4 linked regions of the Homo sapiens genome follow. The protein of the gene in region 4 interacts with the protein of the main gene of each other region in a pairwise test. Each region holds a gene or a part of one and is shown on either strand. Other genes may lie near its edges.

Region 1 (7,029 bases), on a different chromosome or scaffold from region 4:
GAAAATAAAACCAAGAAAAATAATATAATCAACTAGAAGCAGGTGGGAAGAGAGGGGTGAGGAAATATACTTACTAATTTCATCATTACTCATGGTAGGGAGCCAACAGGTACTGTCTGAAGAAATATGGTATAAAGTTACACTTATAAACACAATCACTAAAATAAAAAGATAAATCTTCCAAATTATCAGAATATATATATGTGTGTGTGTATATATATATGTGTATATATATATTATATATATAGTGTATATATATATTATATATATAGTGTATATATATTATATATAGTGTATATATATTATATATATGTGTATATATATATTATATATGTGTGTATATATATTATATGTGTATATATATATTATATATGTGTGTATATATATATTATATATGTGTGTATATATATTATATATGTGTGTATATATATATTATATATGTGTGTGTGTATATATATATATATATGTATGTCCTCCCCTCAAAAGCAAGCACAGTCCACATAGTGAAAGACTTTTTTAAGAAGAAAATATTTTTAAAAGGGCAAGCATGGTAGCTCACATCTGTAATCCCAGGACTTTGGGATGCTGAGGTGTGAGAACTGCTTGAGGCTAGAAGTTTGACCAGCCTGAGCAACGTAGCAAGACCTTGTACCTACAAAAAATTTAAAAATTAGCCAACTGTGGTGGTGCATGCTTGTACTTCTAGCTACTTGGGAGGCTGAGGTGAGAGGATTACTTGAACCCAGGAGTTTGAGACTACAGTGACCTATCATCGTGTCACTGCACTATAGCCTGGGCAACAGAGTAAGTCCTTATCTCAAAAAAAAAAAAAAAAAAAAAAAAGACGAAGAAAATATTAAAAATTGAACTTAAACTAAATAACTAAATATATCAGTTATTCCAATAAATATAAAGGAGCTAACTTACCTATTAAAATAGAAAGGATAATTACCAACAGGAAAGTAGTTAAATAAATTACAGTATATCTTTTAAAAAGAATGAGGCAGTTCTGGCCAGGTGCGGTGGCTCACGCCTGTAATCCCAGCACTTGGGGAGGCCAAAGCAGGCAGATCACCTAAGCTCAGGAGTTCAAGACCAGCCTGGCCAACATGGTGAAACCCCATCTCTACTAAAAAATACAAAAATTAGCCGGGCATGGTGGCAGGCACCTGTAATCCCAACTACTCAGGAGGCTGAGGCGGGAGAATGGCTTGAGCTGGGGAGGCGGAGGTTGCAGTGGGCCGAGATTGTACCACTGCACTCCAGCTTGGGGGACAGAGCAAGACTCCGTCTCAAAAAAAAAAAAAGAATGAGGCAGTTCTATATTCACTGACATGAAATAAACTCAGACATTAATTGAAAAAAGATGCAGAACTACATGTATGACACCATTTTTATAAAAATCTTTAAAATAGATACATGCATTTTATGTATGATTAGGTCTATGTATCTGAAAGAATATCAGAGTATCTGAAAGAATACAAAAGACACTGGTAGCAGCAGTTTGGAATAGGAACCAGATGACTGGAAGATGATGGGACACCAAAGAGACTTAGTTTTCACTGCAAACCCTTTCTGATTTAGTATCATGTACAAGTATCACCTTTATAAGAAATAAGCGATCTTGAGAAGGTTAGAAGGTTTAAGTGGGACGATATGTTGAAAGCCCTTTAGCACAATTCCTGGTGGGTGGTAATGCTAATTTAATGTTAAGCAGGAAGTGACGTAGATTTGCAAATGTTAGAACACTACCCAGCAAACACTCAGTGCCCAAGAAATGTTGATTTTCTTCCTCCCTCCCATTTTTATAATTTAATCCATACTCAACATTTAGAAATTGAAACAAGCTTACCAAATACTTGTTTCACATAACAGAGGTGATCCTAAAGGATGCTCTTAAATAAAAATATAGCCAAATCAATCACTTTCACATTGATTCCTATTAAGATTTCAGAGGAAATCTTACATATAATCTTTAATTTATGAATACAGTCCCTACTTCTTTAGCTATAAGAATCTTTACTCCCTAAACCTCTCTGGAAGATTAATAAGTAATGTGTAAGCAAACTATTACATATATTACTACAGAAATACAAACTTTGAAAACAATACTAATTGATGTGTTTAAAGGGTTTCCTAGGCAGAGAGAAAAAAAGAGGAATCAAAGAGTAAAGGGAAAGTTCTGCTGAGAGAGGAAGGGGGTGTTAGACACCCCCACTGACCACGGGAAAAAAAAAAAAACCCAAAGGGCTACTGATATGCACATTAGCAGCTGCAAATAATCTAAGAGTACACCTGAATTCTTCAAGCCCACAAGCCCTCCTCACAATAAAATATAAAATCAGAGGATAAACTGCAGGAAGATCTCAACAGGCCGGTTAGGTAAGGTGACTGGGTAGAAAAATAAGAGAGTATTACCTTAAAGAAGTATTACCATCTGCCAGTAACCCATGCAGAAGAAAAGCAAACCTAATTTGTGCAGGCTGAAGGGCCAGAGGCCATCAATTACCATCTAGGAAAGGAATCTTAAAATCACAGTAGACTATTTTTTAAAGCTGTCAGCCCAAGGTGCTGGCATAGCCAGGAAGGCTAAGATAAATGATGGACTTCATCAGCAAAGGTATCAGGGCCCAAATTGAATTTGTTAACATATTCTTGAACTGAACCATGATGTATCTAAAACTGGAACACTTTGTATAATAAATCAGCTTATTGCAGCTTAAAAAAGACAGGCAAGAATTTAGAAAAGAGAAACCGAGATGATCACAGAGACTAAATGGAGATAGACCAGAAGAGCCCAATGATTAAGGTGCTCAATTTCCTGACATTTATAATTCACCTTTCACTGTCTGTACCATACCTACTCCTTCCAAACCCAAACTCAGCTCTAAGAAAGACTGATCTCCACTCCACCTTCCAAACTTATTAAACCCATTATTAAATAAGGCTCTTTTCCCTACTTGGAATGCTTTTCTATTTTCTACATCCCTTTTCAAAATTGTATCCATCCTGCAACATTCTCTTCAAATTCTACACCCCTCATGAAACTTTCCATACCCCTACCCCCAGCATCTACTAACTCATGTCTTCTCTAGTTCCCTAACATACATAAATTAGGGCTTATATTACTTTTTAAAAATAAACTAGATTTAGATCATAATATAAGACACAATCAGGGCTGGGCACTGTAATCCCTGCACTTTGAGAGGCCGAGGCAGGCAGATCACTTGAGTCCAGCAGTTCGAGACTGGCCTGGCCAACACAGCAAAACCCCATCTCTACTAAAAATAAAAATTAGCTGGGCTTGGTGGCACACATCTGTAATCCCAGCTACTCAGGACGCTGAGGCACAAGAATTGCTTGAGTCTGGGAGGCAGAGGTTGCGGTGAGCCGAGATCGTGCCATTGCACTCCAGCCAGGGCAACAAGAGTGAAACCCCGTGTCAAAAACAAAACAAAACCAAACAAAACAAAACACCCTGGCATACCCCTCCCTCCCTTCCTAGCAAGCCACTCTATTGGATCTGGCATTTTTCACACTCATTTTTATATTTTTATTTTCTATGTATGTATCCCTAAATAATGTATGATTTTGCATGTTTTTTAAACTTTATATAAATAACATCACACTGTAAATATGACTTATTTTGACTCTAAATCATGTTACTTTAAATTTTACTTAATTCCATGGCTAACTGGCTGATCTCTCCAACACAAGTTAAAAAAAAAAAATACAAAACATTTGCTCTAACACAAGTGAAAAAGCATTTAATTGACATTTTCAAACACAAAGAAAAGTACAGAAAATGATATAATAAACATCCACAAACCCATCACTCTGATTTACAAATGTTAACATTTGTCACATTTCATTTAAGAAAAAAAGTGTTAGGCCGGTCATAGTGGCTCACGCCTGTAATCCCAGCACTTTGGGAGGCCAAGGTGGGTGGGTCATGAGGTCAGGAGATCAAGACTATCCTGGCCAAAATGGTGAAACCCCATCTCTACTGAAAATACAAGAAAATTAGCTGGGTGTGGTGGCACGCATCTGTAGTCCCAGCTACTCGGGAGGCCAAGGCAGGAGAATCGCTTGAACCCGGGAGGCGGAAGTTGCAGTGAGCGGAGATCGGGCCACTGCACTCCAGCCTGGCAACAGAGTAAGACTCCATGTCAAAAAAACAAAACAAAACAAAACAAAAACAAAGTGTTAGACTACTGATGCCCTAATTGCAGTCCCTAGTCCTGTTTCTTCACTTCCCAAGAGATAACAATTATTCTGAAATTGGAGGGAACTCCTCCCATCTGTTTTTATTCCTCTACATATATTCACAGATCCATAAACAACACACAGTATTTTTTATGTTTTTAAACTTCACATAAAAGACTGCACATTGCACATATCTTTCTACATCTTGCTCTTTGCATTCAACAATGTGTTTTCACCCAATTCCACTTTTAAGTTTGTCTGATTACAAATATAACATATGTTTAGTGGAAAAACCAGAAAGTCAATCATACACAGCATCTTCTCCAGGGGAAGCCATGATGCCAAGCAGATTTTTTAGCTCCTAGAAAGCCATAGTGGTGCCATATCTTTTTCTGTAGCCCCCTTGCCACCTGGCAGAGCATGACACATACCAGCAGGCACTTAACAATATTTAGTAAGTGAAGATTAGATCTCTACAAAACCTAGGCCTCCACTTAAGCTAGACCTAAAAACCAGAGGTTAGTTAACACACTGCATCTCGAAGAAATCACACCACATATGCAGAGAAAAGAATGCCATGGAATATGCTGCCACGCAGACAAAATGGAACAAAAGTTCTGATTAATCTCCGTCACTCTCTTTAATAAAACCAACACCATAGAATGTATTGACATAGCTGTTTTGCCTAGTTGAAACAGTGCAAACATCTTGGTAGGAAAAATCAACAGGTGTTTGTTTAGCACTGATAAAAGAGCTAGTGCAAATATGGGAAAAAGACCCATCAAATTTAAATGCCAAACGTGTTGGCAACTGATGTAGGTTCACACACTCACTCCACATTAGTCTTCCAGAACAGGTGATCTATGCTGTTTCGATGATAATTTAGTATCTTCTAGTCACTCACTCTACCAGTAAAACATCTCCAAGCCAAGAACAAGTTGTAATGTACCTGCCCAGACAGGCTGTGACTTTTACACTAAGTCTCCTATCAGATTCATTATTATTTTAGGATCGGCTTCAAGTTCTTAACTTGGCCTCTCTTTCTAACAACGAAGGGCCTGGAAGACTCAGGTAATTTCGATTTTGGCCAGACGCAGAGGCTCATGCCTGTAATCCCAACACTTTTGGAGGATGAAGTGGGCAGACTGCTTGAGCCCAGGAGTTCATGACCAGCCTGGGCAACATGGCAAGACCTGTCTCTACAAAAAATACAAAAATTAGCCAGGGCTGGGCACGGTGGCTCACACCTATAATCTCAGAACTTTGGGAGGCTGAGGTGGGCTTGAGGTCAAGAGATCACTTGAGGTCAAGAGTTCAAGACCAGCCTGGCCAACATGGCGAAACCCCCTTCTCTACTAAAAATACAAAAATTAGCTGGGCATGGTGGCATGTGCCTGTAATCCCAGCTACTCAGGAGGCTGAGGCAGGAGACTCGTTTAATCCTGGGAGGTAGAGGCTGCAGTGAGCTGAGATCGTGCCACTGCACTCCAGCCTGGGCAACAGAGGGAGACCCCATCTCAAAAAAAAAAAAAAAAAGGTGATTTTTTTTTTCTCCTGTGCCCGAGCTCTAGACACACACACACACACACACACACACACACACACACACACACACACACACACTGACCAAAGCTTTTTTATTTTTCCCCCATAGGTTTGTGCCACCAAGCCCAGATAATTTTTTTGTGTGTTTTTAGTAGAGACGGAGATTCACCATGTTGGCCAGGCTGGTCTCGAACTCCTGACCTCAAATGATCCACCTGTCTCAGCCTCCCAAAGTGCTGGGATTACAGGTGTGAGCCACCACACCCAACCAGATCAAAGCTTTTCAATTTCAGTTTCAAAAACTGAAGCAAGGAGAGAAAACAAAAATGATAGCTACTATCATCGTAACTATCCTTCTTATAATAGCTAATATTATTGTGTACCTCCTAACCAATTATTATGTATTATCTCATTTAATCCTCATAACAGCCCCATGGAGCAGATACTCTGTCCCTATTTTAGAGATGGGGAGACTGATGCATTGAGAGGTTAATTAAATCCCATAAGATCACATAGCTAGAAAGCAGAGCTGGGATTTTAACCTAGGCAGTCAGATTTCAGAGCCTGCATTTTTTTTTTTTTTTTTTTTTGGAGACAATCTCTTGCTCTGTTGCCCAGGCTGGAGTGGAGTGACGCAATCTCAGTTCACTGCAACCTCCGTCTCCCAGGTTCAAGAGATTCTTGGGCATCAGCCTCCTGAGTAGCTGGGACTACAGGCACACACCACCAAGCCCAGCTAATTTGTATTTTTAGTAGAGATGGGGGGTTTCACCACGTTGGCCAGGCTGGTCTCGGACTCCTGGCCTCAAGCGATCCACCTGCCTCAGCCTTCCAAAATTCTGGGATTACAGGCCACCACACCTGCCAAAGCCTGCAATGGTAGAGATTGCCTCTTATCTTCTAGGCATTAATACAATGACCATTTGATGTGCTAAGTAAATGGGGCTCATGTGAATAACTGAGAGAACTTAAAAGATGCTTAGTTCCACCAAGTTACTACATGACCCAGCAATTCCACTCCTATTTATCAGCAGAAGAATAGAAAATATATATCCAAACAAAAACCTCTGCATAAATGTTCATAAAAGCATTACGTACAATAGCCCAAAAGTGAAAACAATTCAAATATCCATCAACTGATGAATGAACAAAATGTGGTGTATGTATACTATGGAATATTATTCAGCCATAAAATGGAATGAAGTACTGATACATACTACAGCGTGGACAAGCCTGAAATCACTGTGCTTAATAAAAGAAGCCACTCACAAAAGGCCT
Region 2 (6,946 bases), on a different chromosome or scaffold from region 4:
AGTTCTATGTGAATGTCTTTTTTTTTTTTTTTTTTTTTTTTGCATTTAGCCCATTTTCTTCAAGTCTGTGTTGAATTTAAAAAAGTACATCTAAGGCTATATTGTAAAGAAGAAGGCAATTTATAGATTGAAAGAGTTTCCATTTAAATTAGATACAGTGTTTGCATCCATAGGAATGAGAAAGTTCAGAGAACTAACCTTGACGTGAACTACACTTGCATTTATTGATTTATTGATTTAGGGACAGAGTCTCGCTCTGTTACCCAAGCTGGAGTGCAGTGGCTTGATCTCAGCTCACTGCAACCTCTGCCTCCCAGGCTCAAGCGATTCTCCTGCCTCAGTATACTTGCATTTATTACAGTTCACCTTATAGATCTTGTGATGACACAAGTTAACCACTTGTGGGTATTTGGATCTCAGTGTTGCAAAGGCAGAATACAGTGTTTGAAAGACAGGTAATGATGAGAAGAGGGAAAAAATGTATGTGAAAGGAAAGGGCAAGAGATGAAGAAAAGCAGTGTAACAAGGATAAGTGATTCTGTCTCCTCTACTTTTGGAATCAATTAAATTTTTCTATATTCCTCTATTTGGATATTCAGGGTTTGTAACTCATTTCTTTCTGAGTTGAGGGGTGACATAGGTGGGCATTATCTCATTTTATTATGATTAATTTTTAGGCTTATGTGCACAAGAGTGTAATGGAAGAACTGAAGAGAATTATTGATGACAGTGAAATTACAAAAGAAGATGATGCTTTGTGGCCTCCCCCTGATAGGGTTGGCCGACAGGTTTGTATTTAGTGATTCTTTAAGTGTATAAATATTAAAAATTGATAATACTATTTTGTTTCCCGTTATTTATTTGGAATGAGTCTAAGTTGATTCTTTGGCTTTCTATTTAATAGGCACCTGGTAAATTCTCTTTAATTTTATCTCTTAGTTCTGTTTTTCTGTGCTACCTCCTAGTAGTGAAGGAGTCAGTGCATAGCTCTAAATTTAGACATCTTTCTCTGTAGTCACCCCAGCCAACGTTAGGATGTTTTCACAATGCAGTGTTATGAATAATTTCTGTTGTGTGTTAATCACTTTTATTAAGAATATGACTATGTAAAATTTATTTTTGCCAAATCATAACTTCTAAAATTCTTACTTGCATCCCTATACCCCAGAGAGAAACTTGATTGGTGGTTTCTTTGTTAAAACTGATGATTGCATTTCCCTCTCATATTCCTTCAGAATAAATGATGTTTCTCAGGCTTCTGAAGAACTCTGAAGGCCTAATTTCACTCTGTAAAAAGAAAGTTTGGTTTCTGAATTGGGTCTTTTCAACTCTTGGAGAAATTCCTTCAACAACCCCTGGAAGGAAGAAACATTTAATTTCACTTTTGTATATCCCTGAGGATTGTACTTTGTATCACCTTCTTTGAATAGAAGAAAATGTGGAGAAATCTAACACATGCTGACACTCTGTAGGAGTAACTTAAGTCTTCTGCTTAAAGAAGCATTATTTAGAAAAGCAAAGGTAATAGTTAACAGTATTTATTTTAAGCATCGTATCACTTTTAAAAAGTAAATTTAGGCCTCAGTTTGTTTTATGCAGATACACATATGTACTAAAAAGCAAACCACAGCAGCTAACCTTTTATATCATTTAGACTCAGGGAGAGCCTAGTATTTTATCTATTCACTTAAGGATGTGTTCATGGGTTTTGGTTAGTGGGGAGGAGTAGGCATGCTTCAGAAATTGCCTTTTGTATCAAGTCAAAGGTTTTATGGCTGTTAGAGCATCTTAGCTAATTCTCCATTCTGTGTGTGTCATAAACTGCATAATTAGGCCTCTGATTAAATAAATAGCTAGGATTGTCTTCAATAGTGTCTGTTAACTTGAAGATTCATTACAGATATAGCTTTTTAATTATTGGTTTTAGGCCTGCAGATAAACAATATAGGGAAAAATCTATACAGTAATTACAGCACACTAGGAACATCTACATTAGGTTGGTTTTTTTTTTTTTTTTTTACTAGTTCTTAATTTTAGTTATTTTGTGGAGTATTAGTTTTGAAGTCTTACCATCTTGGGATCAAATATAAGTACCATCATTATTAGTGGTTATAAATATCAACAAGTATTTTCTTCTGCTCTATGAGTTTTGGATTACACATTTGTAAAATAGGTTAGTAAGGTTATTTTCAAGATTACAGAGAGTACAAAGTCCCTACCACTAGGGCCTGACATACAGTAGGTGCTAAAGTGGTGGTGGTTATTAATATTACACATTTTATTTGTAGAATCTTCCAGAAAGAAAAAATGTGTATTTATCATATTAAAAATGGTCTTATACTCCAATCATTTTTACAACATGTGCTTCAAAGTGATGTCTTTAGTTTTTACTGACATTGTAAGAAATATTTCTTTGTCATTTTGTTTCATAGTGTCTTCTTTATGTCTCTGGAAAGCAATTCTTTGTTGGTCCTAAACTTGGGGGTAGTGCGCGTGAGCAGTCTTTATTTTAAGGATATAGTTTATATCTAAGAAACCATGTTTCTTTCCCCCTCGCCCCCCACTCCCTCTGTTGGCTGCTAGAAAACTTGCAACTAAAATTGGGATCTGCTTGTAGCAAGAATACAGATACCTCTGGGATAGATTTTTATATTAACTACATTTTTCTGCTATATTTTTTAGGAGCTTGAAATTGTAATTGGAGATGAGCACATATCTTTTACCACATCAAAAATAGGTTCTCTTATTGATGTAAATCAGTCAAAGTAAGTATGTTAAAGCATTTTGGCGAAGTTTTCATTATTACAGAGGCTCATTTTAGAACTATAGTCAGTTTGCTAGCCAAGATAATTTCAGTGGCATCCTATCAGTTTATTATGCAGATGTAATCCTGATTTTTATGTCATTAAAGGCTTATTATCTTGTCTCTCAGTAGAAGTTAGCAGAGTATTTCATTGATTGTCCAAAAACTTTTAATCCAACAGCTGTATATAATAATGCCCAAGTTGTATTAGCTACTTTGTATAAAAATGTGGATACAGTATCAGCAAATCCAAAGGAAAGAAATCCTTATTGGATTATGTCAGCCTCATTAGGCCTATATCATCTCACTGTCCTTCTTGGGCTCAATACTTGGGAAAAAGATGGAAAAAATCCATTATGGCCTAAGTATGCTTTAGCTATCGATGTCTTCCCAAGATCTGTCTCTCCTCTGCCCCAGGGTTTTGTAGCACATCCCATTTTCTTGGTCTGATCCTAGCCACTTATTTTTATTTGTGCCCATTCCCCTCAAAGTGTCCCCATAGTGCTCTTACTTTTTTCTGTCACCCTGAATTGTAATAACCTATTTGTCTGCTTTACTGGTTTGAATGTAAGCTCCTTGAGAACCTTGCTGTATCCACAGAGTTAGCATAGTGCCCTGCACATAATAGATGCTTTCAATAAATATTTGTTAGTGGAAAGGAGAAAGGAATGAATGCATGATAACTATTGGACGCAAAATCTGTGTTCACAAAGACCATCCAAATGCTTTTAAACTATCAAATTTCTTTTCCTACATTTGGTAAGGGTGTGGCATTGATACCCTACTGGGATTATAAATTGGTAATGGTTTTTGGAAAGCAGTTTGGTAATATGCATCAAAAACTGTTGACATTTTTCATTCACCTTTGGCCTAGTAATTTCATTTCTGAGCATCTCTTCTATGGAACTATTCCTAAATATTGGAAAAGCTTTATTATGCATGAAGATGCTCATTGAAGTATTATTTATAATAGGAAATTAACCCCAGTGTCTAACAAGGAGAGAATTATTAAATTAATTAAAAATTACTAGGGAATTTTTTTTTTTTAATGCTGTGGGGAAAGTAATGTAAAAAAGGGCACAAGGAATAATTTTAGTTATTAAAAAATAGAGAAACATCAAAATGTTTATAGTTATTCTATGAAATGGTAGCATTACAGTATTATTTTTTTCTGCTTTATTAGACATTTTTATGATGTGGTTATTACAATCATAAGGATATGAACTCTTTAAATACTAAAATGAATACTGATGAAGAAACTATTTTTTCGTATAGAAAAGATATTAATTGTATGTTCATTTTAGTTGTCAGCAAAATCCTTCCTTTCTCCTAAATTTTGTTAACTTAATTGTTATGAGATTTTGATTTGTTTTGTTTTAGGCATTTAAAGAATTGTTTTATCCTAGGAAGAAAAAGTAACTTTTACCTTTTTAAATTTTAGGGATCCTGAAGGCCTTCGAGTATTTTACTATTTGGTACAAGACTTGAAATGTTTAGTTTTCAGTCTTATTGGATTACACTTCAAGATTAAACCAATTTAAATTGTATGTTTTCAGGCTGTTTGTATATTTAATTAAGGGATGGGAGGGGTTATTTGTCATTTACAGTATTGGGGTTTTTATGAATGTGAAGCAAACAAAAAAAATTTGTATGTAAACTGAAAATAAGAAAATACATTAGCAAGCTTAATGGTTATCCTTACTTGAGTCCATATGGGTTGGACAGTCCCCACACACATTAAATTCTGTAAATGAAAGCCACCTTTTGTTAAAAATTTGCTCTAATAAAACATACCAAATCCTGGTTGCAGAGTAGTTTTTTGTTTTTTCCAGGAGGCTATGTCTCTAATTCACTTTAGAGATAATAAGAAATTGTTCTGGTAGATATATCCTGTGACAGAAGATACTTTAGGTGGAACTATGTAGCCAGATTCCCATCCATGAAAGGCAAGTGTAGATTGTCCCTTATTTCCTTCATACATGATTGGATTTAATTTTGGGGGGCTTATACAAGGTCTAGTTTTTTTTTACAGTTATGACAAACCCCTCAGGGATTATTCACATTTAAATATTTTCAGTTATAAGCAGTGAGGTCCTAAAGTGTTACAAGAGTACAGTCTACCCCATGTTAGGCATATCTTTGATTATGTCTTTATTCCTTATTTCACAATGTATTTGGTGTGTAGGGGAGGGGGGAGAACTAAATGAGTTTTCAGCTTTATAAATTGTTAAACATTTAGACAAACATATATGTATGTATGAATGTACATAAATATTTTTAACTCCTATTGACCACGAGTCTCACTTCAGTTTCCCAGTTCCTTTCAACCTCTTTCTGATAGATTTCCTCTTTCATTACTTTTAGTAACCATGTTCCTTGTTTCCTTTTATTCTTCCATCTGAAGCCCCACTCTTAAAAAGTTGCACTGTTCCAGTAGTTATAATCCACTTGCCCTAGGAACAAGTTAGCACTGAATTTTGGGTGGAATAATTAGTTTCTGAAGGCTTGCCAGGACTCCTGAGCAGGTAGGCTCTAGAGTCGGGCAGTCCAATAACTTTTTTGCAATAATGGAAACGTTCTATGTGCAGTCCAATAGGGTAGCAACTGGCCAAATGAGGCCTACTGATTACTTGAGGTGTGCCTTGTATAACTGAATTTATGGTGCTATTTAAACAATTTTTTTCTAACGTGAAAAGGATAAAACATTAAAAACTCTTGAGAACTATAAAGTGAACACCTATATGCCTACCCCTACCTAGATTCTATACTTAACATCTTTTTTACTGTAATATCTCTATTATAATAAATCTTGGTTTTTCACTTAACTGGTGTAATTGGTGCCAATAAACTACTTTTTTTGTAGTGCTATTTAATTTTGATTAAATTTAGGTAGCCACGTGTCTAGCGGCTACCGTTTGGACAGTATAGCTCTAGAGCATGGCTTGGTAACCTGTTTGCCATGGAGCACTAGATGGTCCTTTTCACTCCTCAAAATGCATGCCCATTGTCTTCAGGTTTGCCATGGAAAGTCAAATGATTTCCACTTCATTATGCAAGTACGCTATCATCTTCAGGTCTTTTGTATGTAAAATGTTTCTGTTCCAGTTGTAGACCTTGATGATTGTGCAGTATGAAATCGTATTGTAATTTTCTTGCATTTAGATGTCAACCTCAGAAACAGGAACAATCGTCTTTTGAACTTCCAGTAGGCCCACAGTTGTTGGTTGTTCCTCAAAACAGGTTGTGGCTCCTGTTGAATAAGATGATCCATTAAAAACTGAACAAGGTTGAGGAGAAATAGTGCTTACGTTGAAAAATCTTTAAGTCTTTGTCCCCGTTCTCTAACTTCCTTACGTTTTCGTTTATTTAGCTCTATCCCCACTATCTACTAGAATTTCTCATATTTAAACCAAGATGGGAGACTAGGTCATTAGGAAAATATTACCGTCTACAATTTTCTTATACTTTGATCTGTCTTTTATTTGATTGTAAGTTGCTGATGGACAGTGATCATTAGAAACTGAATTTTGTATAATACTAGTTTTATATGAAACTAGATTTTTATTGCGCTCAGGTTATGTTCCTTTTACCTCCTTCCTTAATAAAGAGACCACTTGAAATAATCAGACTTTTTCCAAGTACTGTCTGCACCTCATCCCACCTCTTCCCCATTCATGAGATAGTGCAGAACCCTAGCACAGTCTTTTCCATATAGTAGGTGTTTTTTAAGTTTGTTGAATTGGTTGCTGTCTTGCTCTGTCCTTAGATTATTTGCCTTTAGATTATTTATCTTTGGTATTTCATTGGTATCAGGCTGAGTCTATTTGTATGGATATTTTTAATGTAAATATTAATGTAACTGAGATGATTTATATATTCTATTGTTAGACTACTTCGTTTTGATTTGAAATGTGTGAACCTATGAGCATGGACTGTGCTGTAAGTTTAACCACTGACCCCTTTAATTAATAACTGGATTCCTAGCATGAATGGATAATGAAGTCGAATAGAAAATTTTAAAAATTTAATAAACAACAAAGGTAAATGAAGGATTTGAGGGTGAGTTCAGAATCTGCCTTGGCTGACTTCCGTATGATGATCAGTAAAGTTGGATAACTACCACTCAAAATCTCTGGCATCTAC
Region 3 (7,029 bases), on a different chromosome or scaffold from region 4:
CTCATTCTCCTAATGCCAGTTTCTCTGTCTATAGAAGGGAGATAATAATGGTTTTTATCTAATAGGCTTACTGTAAGGATTAAATGTATTACTAAAGCCTATGAGCATTAAATGTATTACTATCTTTGCTTAGAAGAGTGATGGCACCAGCTATTATCTTTCTAAATTATAGTTCCAACTATATTACTCAGTATTTTAAAACAAAACCTTTTTCATGTTAGTAAAATCAGTTCCAAAATCCTGGGAATGACACGAAGCTCTTTACAATCAGCCCCCAATCTATTTTTCAAGCTTCAGATCCTACCTTTTCCCTGTATCACCTGGTTATAAAAAATGCATTGCTGATCTCCCTACAACAGGGTGTCTTTTCAGTCTTCCATGTCTTTTTGAAGGTTGTTCCTTCTGCACAGGCTACTCTCCACCCTTCTCCTTTCCACGCTACATGGTGTGTTCTCTTTCTTTTTAACGGGTCTTGTCTTTATTCCCACAATTTACAGCTTAGGTCCCTCTCACTTCTCATCTGGATGACTGCAACTGCCTCCAAATGTGAGCTATCTGCCTCCAGATTTGTCACCTTCACGTACCCACTATGATCAGAACGAGCTCTCTTGGCAAACGTGCTCATGTCCCTTTCCTATCTAAGATCCTTCCATCACTCCCCGCTGTCTTGTTAAGTGAAATACAAACTTCAAACATTCTACATTAGGTTGACGTTCATCTTGTTATTCTCTTCGCCCTCCTCTCCAATCCTTTCAGACACACACGCACACACGTGTGTACATGCAAAGCACACAAGAGTCCCGTGTTCTTTAGCTTTTGAATATGCTGTTTCTTCTGATTCTTTATCCTTGGTTAGGTTAAACTTTAAATTTTTCAAGACATAAGCTCAAGCTTCATGTCTTCTGAGATGTTTTCTTTGATCCCATTTCCCCTACTCTCAGACATAGTTAGAAATCACCTAAGTCCTCCCGTAGTGACCTGGGCACCTCTCTATCCCAGTATTGGTCATATTACATAGCCATCGCTCATCTTTCCTGTGAAACTCTTTGAGGTCAGAGACTATTTTCCATCAATCTCCAATACCTATAATAAAGTGCACAATAAATGCATTTAAAATGAATAAAACTCTACTCCAAAGCTTCTTCCTATGGTAACAGGAAGAACCATTGTTTCCTCCATTATGCTTTTACTATCTCTTGATTATTCACCATATCCTGTTAATTCCAACTTCCAAAAAATGTCTTTCGAATCCATCCATCTCTTCATCTCTACTGCCATTTCCCGGTTGAGCCATTATGACCCACTAGAAGGTATTCATAGGAACTTTAAAAAAAATTACAATATCCTCTGCTCCTAAACGGCACTGGCACGTAACAGGCACGGATACATTGGAGAGATGACTTAGTTCAACCTCCATGACTGGTTTTCTTGGTCCTGTCCCCCTCCAGACCAGTGTCCACAAGCAGCTTAAGGGCTCCATCATTTCTCAACCTTTTTGTGCTATACTACAGTTGCCTCACATCCACATTCAAGGTTATCGATCCACTCTTAATAGCTGTGTCTCATCTATTGTTGCCCATCAAATGAGTTTACAGTCAATGATCACATTATCTTCATTCTTTCTCAAAACGCTTCTAATTCATGCTCTTATGACATTTTTTTCATTACCCTCAGTCACTTGCAACATACTTTCACAGTCTATCTTGGATAGCTCCCTAATTCCTAGATCTTCATGTGTAATTTTTCCTCTGCTATCTCTACCTCATGGTGATTTATTTTTTTCTCAAGTGGCTTGTAATTTTTTTATTTTATGTCCATCTTTTTACTTTGGGAGTCCTGAGAGCCCTGGATTTAAATGTGAGCCCCTTGAATGTAATTTCATTTGTTTCTTCCTAAGTGCTAATGGTTTCAATGATCTTGGACAGTTTGCTTTTTTAAGACTCTCCCTCTGTTGCCCAGGCTGGAGTGCAGTAGTACAATCATAGCTCACTACAGCCTGGATCTCCTGGCCTCAAGTGATTTTCCAACCTTGGCCTCCCAAAGCACTGTTACCAGAGGCTGAGCCACCATGCCTGGCCAAATCAGTTTTTATGTTAATTTCTCAGGGTGTTCCTGAATAATGCTTTTGTGTATTATTTAGATCGATGCCTTCAAGTAATGTTTGGCCTACCCAAGGTTCTGGAGAACCCACTTCCTTGCACTTTTCCTGGGTCAGTAGGACGATTTTCAAAGGTCCAGGTTTGCAGGCTGCTTAATTCTGTAACTTTCACACAGCGTCAGCTTCCCAAGTCCTATCTCCCTGTTGGAGTACCAGTATTAAAAGCTCAATCCCTAGAAACCTTATTTTGGTTTGGAATCTCACTGCGCCATGGTAAAGTCAGCTTATACTTATTTTTCTAGTGGTTATTTCTTTTTCCTTCTGGAACCTATGCGCTTTCCTTTAGCTTTTGAGAGAGAGAGACAGAGAGAGAGAGAGAGACAGACACACAGGGAGAGACAGACACACAGGGAGAGACAGCATGGGCTGTCCTGTTCCTGACAGGAACAGGATTTAATAATGGGCAGGAGGCCCATCCACATTAGCTCCACCTGCAATACTCCAAGTAGGTGAGTGGTGAACTTCCTAACATACAAAATCTGCCAATGGCTTCCCAGTGACCTTAGGTTAAAATTTAAACTTCTTAAAATGTGATACACAAAGACCTTCAAAAGCTGGTCCCTGCTACCTCTCCTTCCTTCCATGACTGCCACTCCCATTGAAAGCCACTGCAAGAATTACTGTTCTTTCTTTTCTATACCCTCCCTGGGCTTTCCTGATGCTGTTCACCTTGTCTGAAGTACCCTTCTCCACTCTTCATGTGGTTAACTCTATCCATCTTTCAGAGCTCAGTTTTTCCAAGATGCCTTCCCTGGTCCTCCCAGATGATGCTTCCACAGGAACTTGTATCTCCCCCTATCACAGCATGCACATGTGTCTATTTTTTGTGTCATCAAAACTGTTCATCTTCTGTTGAACTCACTGGACTGTAAAGCTCTGAGGGCAGGGATATGCTGTGCCCAGCTCGATGCCTGGCACACACCAGGCACTCACTTCACATTTGATGAATGCAGAGAATGCTTAGTAAGGTTTTAAAAGTCTGTTTCCAGAAGGATAGATACCATGTTATATTAACCCATATTCATCCATAAGTCTAGCAAACTGTGTGCTGGATAAAGGCATACATAGGGAAAAAAACATTTATTGTTTGGATTGTGAGTAAAACAGAATTCTCTTAGTGGTTCCCAAGATGATGGAACCACAACTCATCACAAGGAATCTTCAGGTTGCACCGGGAATAATCCAAATGCAAGTCACACAACACTTGGCATTTGAAAAAAAAAAAATCATTTTCCATTGAGGATTTAAATCAATTTTAATAAGCGCAAAATCAGACATCAAATAAATGGAACTACAATACTAATTATTTATCCAGACAAAGCTTTCCAAACCCCACCCCAACTCCTACCCCTGGAAGACAGAATTAATACATAGGGTCTTTTGGCTTAATAAAAGGACTTCTAGTATCTTAAAAGTTTGAGAACCGACGTCCAGTGAAGTAGACTTGGAATCCTCATTGTTTTCACGCAGCACTAGGTACAAGAGATTCCACAGTATGGATCCTACAACGTATGCATTGACAGAAGAGTTCCTGCTCTCTCAAAGGGCTTTGCTCTCCAAAGAAAAAAGAACATGTAACAGTGCCACACCAAACTTGCCATTTAAAAATGCCCTTCAGAAATCACAAGCTGAGATTTCTGGTGCTTGTTTTGCATTTACTTTGGCAGCCTAGGAAGATGAAGGAAAACAGATCAGCAATAGAAGGAATGAAGGAAGGAGTCTTTGTGGGGTAAGAGATGGGAAATGAATAGGAGGTACAGCAGTGCTGTGCACAGCACCAAACTGGGTATCCAAAGACATATGCCCCGGCCCCAGATCCCCAAGAAACTGGAGCTTCCCTGAGGGTTTCGTGAAGTAACGTACCCAAGAGCCCTTGTAAAGGATAAAGCCCTCTGCAGATAACCAGTCTCCTAACTCAGTGATTATCTGAGATATGAGAGCTTTATGAACTAAAATGTGTTGTGCAAATGTCAAGATTTAATATTAGAGGCAGAAAACAGATGTTGTGTTTTTATTCTATAATTAATGGGATGTGCTATGCCATAAGTATACCTTGCAATTTGTTGCCTTTGCTATTCTAATACCTTTCTTCAATGTCTGTCCTTGGAAGAGTTCCAGAGTAAGACAAAAACTATAGAGAGAATACAATAGAGAGAATATGAAACCAGGCCAGGATTAAGTAAGAGACTTGGTTCCAGAAGACACTAAAACAGTATCTGCAAAGATACAACCTAGTGTCTTGAGTGTTCCTAGGATGCATAGGATTGGAGAGGAGCTATCAAGGTAAGACCTCTGTACAATCCTCAGGCCAGCTGTCTCTGCCCCTTATCTGAAGGTGTCACGTGGCAGTGAAGACCCAAGCTCAATTCTCTTACAAGAACAGAAAACCACAGGCAATGAAACAATATCTAGTTCTCTACCTTAAAACGCTACTAGCTAGGGTGATCTTTCTGGACCCTAAATGACAAAGTCTGTAGTCATATACCATCAACCTAAAGGAGAGACAGTGATCTGCCTATGTACTGGCAAATAATCTTCAGAAGAAAATAGTGATTAGAACTGAAATTATTATATTTAGCAGATATTTATATCCCTTCCAGTCCCCATTCTTATTTTATACCTTAATGCAGGCCTATAGTTTGGTAATTTTAATACAACTACTTGCTGGGGCTAACCAGGGCCTGTCAACAGCTCCTCTCAGTGTTCTAGAATAGAAATTGGCTAATAAAAACTGTTAACCGCTCTTTTCCAATGCTGCTGCTGTTCTTTAAAACGAAAGATTAGCCCAGTACAATCCTTCTAATGGACATATTCTTTTATTCTTGATTGTCCTATATACAAGCGCTTACCTAAGCTTTCCACATAATGGTTAGTGGCCTTGGCACGCTGGGTTTGAATCCCTGACCTCGAATCCCTGACCTCGCTTATTAGCCTTGTAACACAATTTCCCTAAGCCTCAGTCTTATCCTCAAAAATGTGGCTAATACTACTTATCTCATGTGGTTGTTTTAAGGAGTAAATGAAATAACCTATAGAAACCCTTCAGTATAGAGTCTGGCATAGGGTAGGTGCTCAATATATTTTATTCATTTTCCTTCAAGCTATTTGAAATCGTTTTGGGAAGAAGGCAAGATTTAAATGATAAACAAGCAAACAGTTCTCTATTGCATCATAATTACAAAAAAACAGATGGCATAAGGAAAATCTTGGTCGGTCTATTGTTATATCAAAGAAACCATGCTAAACCAAAAAAAAAATCCTTGCTTTGGAGGCACTTATGAAGTAGGATTAAATGAAAGTGTTGGAATACAGATGAGAAGGAACCTTAGACACAGGTTCTCCCACCGAAGACCATATCAGCAATGCTTCTAATTACCAATATATCAAAGTCCTCTCCACTCCCTGTAACTGGCAGGAGACAATCTGAGGCAAACTCAGTGTACCAAGAAGTCCTGTGAAAACTTAACCTAGACAGCACAATGAATGAAAGGGAATGAATTCCCTGGCTTTTGGCCTTCTAACACGTGACCAGTATGCTTCAAAACATGTTTAAAACTGTTTCTGTAAAATATTTTTGCCACCTAAGTTTCCCCCCCGCCCCTTCATAAAAGTGATATTTGAGTAGTGAGGGGAGAAATGGCTCAAAATTTGTTACAAGAGGTTCCAAAGAAAGACAATAAGGTATAGAGAAAGGGAAGACAGGAAGAAAGAGAAAGAGGTCAAGTATGTAGTGGATAGTACAGGGAAGTCACAAGTATCTTCTGTCTGGAAATGCTGCAGATTTTGTGGTTAGCCTCAAGATATTAGGTGGGAATAAACATGTCATTGAGAGTAAATGTAAACACAAAAATGAAAAATAAAAATTGTAACAATTCACTTTATTCTAAACTGTTTTTGATGGTTATATATGGCAGGCCTAGGAGGCAATGTTAGACAGTAGATAGTTGCCTTCGGCGGAGGGTGACCTGTGTTCTGTCCACTGCTCTACATTGTAAAGAGGTGTCATCTTGGACAAGTCACGGCAGCTCATGTTGAGTCTTGGGATGATTCTTTATCTAAAGGTAGAGAACTGAACCAGCTTTTTGATGGTGATGAGGAGGGGTTTTGAGAGGAACAAGGATATACAGCATCTCTATTGAATATTTGGGCCATAATGTAACAGCCTAGGATGCTGAGATTTACTCAAGAGCTGAGGACGGCTAGGGGCCAAACACAGATTTTTAAGTTTTGAGATAGGGTTTACTCTGTTGCTAAGACTGGAGTGCAGTGGCAAGATCACAACTCACTGCAATCTCTGCCTCCCAGGTTCAGGCCATCCTCCCACCCCAGCCTCCTAAGTATCTGGGACTACAGCACATGCCACCATGCCCAGCTAATGTTTAAATTTTTTATAGAGAAGGGGTCTTGCCATGTTGCCCAGGCTGGTCTCAAATACCTGGGCTCAAGTGATCTGCCAGCTTTGGCCTCCCAAAGTGTTAGGATTACAGGTGTGAGCCACTGCACCCAGCCTCAAATACAGATTTTTAAGAGGCCAGATTTATACACCTGGCCATCATGGTCATGTTGGTTAACCTCCATCATGAAGCTAGGCTTTTTAACCTTCAGGAAAACTACCCCAGAGCAGTTAATGGCCTAAATAAAGGAGGTCAAGCTATATGTCTCAGTTTAAAACAGAACATGACAAATTAACCTGAAGCAGGAAAAGGAGGGGACATCAAACCTGACACCCATCCTGATAAGAGTAACTGCTCTCATTTGACAGCCAGAGTTAAACTAGATGTATGCAATCTCTACAACAAACATAGTCAATGCCAATCAGATAGTCAGAGGAACCATCATTTAATGGGAAATAACGCAATAACATATATAAC
Region 4 (7,029 bases):
ATGACCAATTGAGAGCAATCATTGAAGTTGATCGTCTTACAGCTAAGTGAGAAGCTGCCAAAGAACTCAACATTGACCATTCTACGGTCGTTTGGCATTTGAAGCAAATTGGAAAGTTGAAAAAGCTCAATAAATGGGTGCCTCAGGACCTGAAGGAAAATTTTTTAAAATTGTCATTTTGAAGTGCCATCTTATACTACACAACAATAATGAACCATTTCTCAATCGGATTGTGACGTGTGACAAAAAGTGGATTTTATACGACAACTGGCAACGACCAGCTCAGTGGCTGGACCCAGAAGCTCCAAAGCACTTCCCAAAACCAAACTTGCACCAAAAAAAGGTCATAGTCACTGTTTGGTGGCCTGCTGCCGCTCTGATCCACTACAGCTTTCTTCCTTTTTTTTTTCTTTTTTTTGAGACGGAGTCTCACTCTGTCACCCAGGCTGGAATGCAGTGGTACAATCTCAACTCACTGCAACCTCTGCCTCCGAGGTTCAAGCAATTCTCCTGCCTCAGCCTCTCAAGTAGCTGGAACTACAGGTGCACACCACCATGCCTGGCCAATTTTGTATTTTTAGTAGAGACAGGGTTTCGCAATGTTGGCCAGGCTGGTCTCGAACTCCTGACCTCAGGTGATCCACCCACCTCGGCCTCCCAAAGTGCTGGGATTACAGGCGTGAGCCACCACACCTGGCCCACTACAGCTTTCTGAATCCTGGTGAAACCATTACATCTGAGAAGTACACTCAGCAAATCAATGAGATGCACTGAAAACTGCAACACCTGCAGCCAGCGTTGGTCAACAGAAAGGGCCCAATTCTTCTTCATGACAATGCCCAACCGCACGACACACAACAAACGCTTCGAAAGCTGAATGCATTGAGCTATGAAGTTTGCCTCATCCGCCATATTCACCTGACCTCTTGTCAACCACCACTTCTTCAAGCATCTCGACAACTATTTGAAAGGAAAATGCTTCCAAAACCAGCAGGTTTTTGGAAAGCAGAAAATGCTTTCCAAATCCCAAAGCATGAATTTTTAAGCTACAGGAATGAACAAACTTATTTCTCATTGGCAAAAATGTGTTGATTATAATGCTTCCTGCTCTGATTAATAAAGACGTGTCTGAGCCGACTTATAATGATTTAAAATTCACGGTCCAAAACCGCAATTACTTTTGCACCAACCTAATACTTTATATAAATGGTACTATGATCTAATAATTATAGTAACATGATTTGCAAATACTAAAATATTTTGCTTGCCTTGTTCTATAAAATATATGTAATATAATCACTAATCTTTCATAATGTTGATCAGAATACTTTCCAAGTAACATTCAAAAAGTAATCACTTCTAGATGTATCTCTAATAACAGCAAAAACAACAGACTTCTAGATCTATAATTCGGCATCTATCAAGACTAATTGTGGCAGGCACATAATATAACACACTCCCAAAAGAGAAAAAAAATAGACATAACCTTCACCATAGACAGCACAGCCTTCACCATAATTTTTAAAGCATTAATATATTTCCACAAATAATATATTACCTCTTGAACTACATATAAAAATAATCCTTGAGGCAGCCTGGGTTCCAAATATATTGTCCTGAAATTGATAGACAGAAAACAAGTGATATTTGTACATCCATTTTTCTTTTAAGTTTCAGAAGAAAAGCAAAATCAAAAGTATGTTATATTAGCGCCATAGCTAACATCAACATGTTTGACATAAAAAGTACGTATTCTTCAACTTCAAGAAAGGAAAAGATTGTTCTTTGGCTCTAGTCCTAAGCTGGAAACAAGTAACCACAAAACCAGTTTTAAATCTACCCCAGTCAATCCATCCTTAAAGTCTACTCAACCTTTCCACTTAAGCACTTTGCCAACAAAGTAAGCCAATCAGCAACTGCCCCGCTTCAGTACCTTTGCTCCTCAAAGCCGGTCAGTCTCTAAACTCTAAGTTTAAAGCTGGCTAATCCTTAAATTTTTGCACTTTTCAAAATCAGCCAATCTCAAACTCTGTGCTTCCTCAAAACCCTACATAAAAACGTCTCTGCCTGTTTAAAGGACTGTCTTCTGCAAGCACGGTTCTCCCCTACCCAGCAAGTATGGTTTACCAAAACTCAGGTAAGTTTCTACTTAAGTCAAATTAGAATAGGCTTACAAACACTGAATTACCAATGATTCAAGTGGCAACATGAGTTTCAAGAAACCTAATTAAGTTAGGCAAAGATTCTGTGAATTTATCCAGAAATTGTCAGATTTATTTATTGGAGAATATCTGAAGACACAGAATAGCTCAGTGGAAACAGCCAAACTACATTATGAGTTGGGTGGCACTGAATAGGTTATTTAATATCTCTAAACCAACTTCTTTTTCTATAAAATGAGAGTAATAACTCTATTTCACAGTATTGTCAAGAAGATTAAATGGGATAACAATAACTGGTAACTTTAAAAGATTCCTAGGTACGGCCGAGCGCAGTGGCTTACGCCTGTAATCCTAGCACTTCGGGAGGTGAAGGCGGGCGGATCACGAGGTCAGGAGATCGAGACCATCCTGGCTAACACGGTGAAAACCCGCCTCTACTAAAAAAATACAAAAAATTAGCCGGGCTTGGTGGCGGGTGCCTGCAGTCCTAGCTACTAGGGAGGCTGAGGCAAGAGAATGGCGTGAACCCGGGAGGCGGAGCTTGCAGTGAGCCAAGATCGCGCCACTGCGCTCCAGCCTGAGCGACAGAGCGAGACTCTGTCTCAAAAAAAAAAAAAGATTCCTAGGTATAAAGTTCTAGATTTGCTTTCATCACTAACTTATTAACACATATGGAAAGTCATTTAACCTAAGTCTGTTTCTTCATTGGTCTAATAGTGAGGATAATGCATGCCCTACACATTTTATGGGCTGTTTGTAACAATCAAAAATGAAAATTAATGTGAAAAGGATTTTGACAGATATAAACCATGAAACTGTGAAATAGCTAATTTAACATATACAACAATAAAGGGAATTCACACTAGGAAACCTGTTACAATCCAGGATTATATAAAGTCCAGATTAAATTAATTTTAGTAAGAAAAATATTCATAGCCAAAAACAAATACAAAACCACTAGACACACTAGCAACCAAAAAAATTCAAGGCTACTATTATTAGCTCCAAGAATTATTTCCCATTCAGTAAATGAACCAAATTAGCTCAGCTATCCAACAAACTAAAAGCAGTACAACACAATCCTTTGTCCAAGTCAGGCATTTGCCACTTAAAACTACCACCTCCATTTCTAAAGCAAAAAAATAAAAAAATAAAAAAGGAGGAACAGAAGGAAGGAGGGAGTGAAGGAAGAAAAGATATTACAGAATTTCTCAACATCAGGAGTACTGACATTTTGAACTGGATAATTTTCTGTTGTTGAGAAGTTGTCTTGTACATTGTGGGACATTCAGTGACATGCTATAATGGCCTCAATCCACTAGATGCTAGGAGTAATGTCCCCACACACAAATGTGACAACCAAAAATGTTTTCTAGACATTGCCAAATGTCCCCAGAGTGTGTTGGAAAGTAAAAAATCATTCTGAGTTCAGATTCTTCACAGTATCATCTTCCAGTATTTATTTCACACTGCTTGGTGGCTTGCAATGCAGACTGAAATTAATAGCTTTGCAATTGAAGAACCAAATAAGAAAATACTCCCTGTAGAATAGTAACAACTTGAAGAATAATAGCTACGTAGTTATGGTTAAATTATTCCTTTCATCGACATACTGGTTTTGCTTACTATTCCCTAAGAATTTTCTTCTGGGTGTTCTTTTGGGGTTAAAACTTGGTTAACCTGTCACTAAAGCTTAGTCTCCACCTAGACTTACTAATTATTAGCCATTAGTGTAATGTGTTAAAATCAAACCTAAAGATTTTAATTTTTAAGCAACCAAATGTGAAATGAAGCAAAAATAAGTGCTACTTATATAAATTATTTAAATATATTCAAACATTTAGAGTGTAAAGTACACAAACAAGCATCCAGCTACTACTACAAATATATATGAGTTGAAGATAATAATGCAAAAATAAAAGTGATTGCAAGAAGTAGAATTTTGACAAAAACAAGAAATGGGGAAAGGATTCCCTATTTAATAAACGGTGCTGGGAAAACTGGCTAGCCATATTGAGAAAGCTGAAACTGGATTCCTTCCTTACACTTTATACCAAAATTAATTCAAGATGGATTAAAGACTTACATGTTAGACCTAAAACCATAAAAACCCTGGAAGAAAACCTAGGCAATACCATTCAGGACATAGGCATGGGCAAGGACTTCATGTCTAAAACACCAAAAGCAATGGCAACAAAAGCCAAAACTGACAAATGGGATCTAATTAAACTAAAGAGCTTCTGCACAGCAAAAGAAACTACCATAAAGAGTGAACAGGCAACCTACAGAATGGGAGAAAATTTTTGCAATCTACCCATCTGACAAAGGGCTAATATCCACAATCTACAAAGAACTTAAACAAATTTACAAGAAAAAATCAAACAACCCCATCAACAAGTGTGCAAAGGATATGAACAGACACTTCTCAAAAGAAGACATTTATGCAGCCAACAGACACATGAAAAAATGCTCATCATCACTGGCCATCAGAGAAATGCAAATCAAAACCACAATGAGATACCATTTCACACCAGTTAGATTGGCGATCATTAAAAAGTCAGGAAACAACAGGTGCTGGAGAGGATGTGGAGAAATAGGAACACTTTTACATTGTTGGTGGGACTGTAAACTAGTTCAAACACTGTGGAAGACAGTGTGGCGATTCCTCAAGGATCTAGAACTAGAAATACCATTTGGCCCAGCCATCCCATGACTGGGTATATACCCAAAGGACTATAAATCATGCTGCCATAAAGAGACATGCACACGTATGTTTATTGTGGCACTATTCACAATAGCAAAGACTTGGAACCAACCCAAATGTCCATCAATGATAGACTGGATTAAGAAAATGTGGCACATATACACCATGGAATACTATGCAGCCATAAAAAAAGGATGAGTTCATGTCCTTTGTAGAGACATGGATGAAGCTGGAAACCATCATTCTGAGCAAACTTTCACAAGGACAGAAAACCACACACCACATGTTCTCACTCACAGGTGGGAATTGAACAATGAGAACACTTGGACACAGGGTGGGGACCATCACATACCAGTGCCTGTCGTGGGGTCGGGGGAGGGGGAAGGGATAGCATTAGGAGACATACCTAATGTAAATGACGAGTTAATGGGTGCAGCACACCAACATGGGACATGTATACATATGTAACAAACCTGCATGTTGTGCTCATGTACCCTAGAACTTAAAGTATAATTTAAAAAATAAATTTAATTAAAAAAAGAATTATATTTAAATGCTCAGTATGTACTATCACTGGGCTAGACACACTGTTTTCAACAATAAATCTTCATATATATAAAAGTACTCATAAAATAGTTTAAAATTTGCTTGTGCAAATGTAAATTTTAAAAGGAATCTGAATTTTATTTACTATCTAGGATGTTATATTTCGCATGGTCAGTGTTAGAAACAGAGGGTCCTGTTGTTTTCAGATAGAACTTACCATCACTCCCCCTCTGCTGGGAGCTACCTGACACAATTAAATAACCATCAACCTGCCCTCACTGTGCCTGAACTTAAAAGTCAATAACACCTGAGCATCAATAGGCTATTGACTATGCAATTTTACTTTATACCATATATGGGTATCTGATGTTCCTGGGAAACTAACTGCAAATGTGGTGTAAATAAAGACTAATCATTTCAACTCCATTAAATGTAGGGAAGCTACAAGAGCAGATTTAAAACGTTGTGAACTGCAAAATGAGATGGCACCCCTCTACATTTACGTTAGTAGAGGGCTTCTGTTTAGAGTAATCATAGATCTGGTTATTTAGATACTTTCCCAATGAAAGCTTAAAACAAAATATAATTTTATATATTTTTAAAAATTCTGAAATTAACCATAAAATCTACGGCAGTGCAATTTTATATAATTCTTACATGGTTTAAATTTGAAATACTCATGTTAGGAAGTAACAAAATTGTGACAACTGTTGAGGTTATGGTATGCCATGAAAGATCTACGGGAACAAGACACATCTTTTTTTGTTTGTATTTTTCTAGTCTCCATGTTCTACAATGATCCAGCTATACGAGATGTAATCTGCAATTCCACCTACAATATATATCACCAGATCCCCTTTCTATGACAAAAAAAAAATACATGTCAATGTTAGAGATGGTCAGCAAAGAAACTCAAACTTATTCCAATAGGTGGAACTTTGGCATGACACACTTAAACCGGTGGAAACCTGCCTGAATACTTCACCCAACCCCTCCATCACCCTCTATTATGCAAGCTGCAACATTTCAAGCCAACTCCCTTATTTCTCTGGTGAGCCCTGTCAACACTGAGGTAATAGAACTGGAAAAACTCATCACTTCAAAAGGACAGTCAAATATCAGAATTTATTTCATTTGGTAAAAATTCTATCATTGCCAAATAAAGCTAATGCAAATATAGTAAAATATGCATGATTTTGAGTAATTCTTTTGTTGAAAAGGACTCTTGGGGAGCCTCAACTTCATCCTGCAACAGCTTAGGCATTCTTTTGCCCCTTTGCCCTTTTCATGCCCCATCTCACAAGTCATGGAAGCTGGGGAGGGGAGGGTGCAGAAAACCCAAATGAACTAATCGGCATGTATTTATGCATTTAGTCTACTCTAATTTTATTCCCACAGGTTTTTCCTCATACCCTGCTCCTCTAAGGTAAAGAACTGTTTTATTCATCTCTGAACTTCCAAAACCTAACCAAATGCCCATTATATAAAGTCATCCCTAACATCTACTACACAGCAGGCACTGGATTAGGGACTAGAGATAGAGAAGTCAAAGAGACAGACCTTGCCCCTACGGAACCTACAGTGGGGAATACCAGATACTGGCTGCATGAACCCAGT

What was found.
Region 1: the proteins of ZNF438 (region 4) and TBC1D22B interact in binary tests that used the Homo sapiens proteins (3 or more experiments, as listed by UniProt).
Region 2: the proteins of ZNF438 (region 4) and MAGOHB interact in binary tests that used the Homo sapiens proteins (3 or more experiments, as listed by UniProt).
Region 3: the proteins of ZNF438 (region 4) and ZNF202 interact in binary tests that used the Homo sapiens proteins (3 or more experiments, as listed by UniProt).

Annotation. Positions count from the first base shown.
Region 1 is NC_000006.12:37,260,745-37,267,773, reverse strand, and holds part of TBC1D22B (TBC1 domain family member 22B), read right to left. Parts: intron 1-7,029. UniProt on the Homo sapiens protein: May act as a GTPase-activating protein for Rab family protein(s).
Region 2 is NC_000012.12:10,603,673-10,610,618, reverse strand, and holds the end of MAGOHB (protein mago nashi homolog 2), read left to right. Parts: intron 1-677; coding exon 678-788; intron 789-1,235; exon of another isoform or gene 1,236-1,521; intron 1,522-2,682; coding exon 2,683-2,765; intron 2,766-4,244; coding exon 4,245-4,344; 3' UTR 4,345-6,426; downstream 6,427-6,946. UniProt on the Homo sapiens protein: Required for pre-mRNA splicing as component of the spliceosome. Plays a redundant role with MAGOH in the exon junction complex and in the nonsense-mediated decay (NMD) pathway.
Region 3 is NC_000011.10:123,731,644-123,738,672, forward strand, and holds part of ZNF202 (zinc finger protein 202), read right to left. Parts: intron 29-7,029; exon of another isoform or gene 1-28. UniProt on the Homo sapiens protein: Transcriptional repressor that binds to elements found predominantly in genes that participate in lipid metabolism.
Region 4 is NC_000010.11:31,021,862-31,028,890, forward strand, and holds part of ZNF438 (zinc finger protein 438), read right to left. Parts: intron 2,543-7,029; exon of another isoform or gene 1,559-2,542; intron 1-1,558. UniProt on the Homo sapiens protein: Isoform 1 acts as a transcriptional repressor.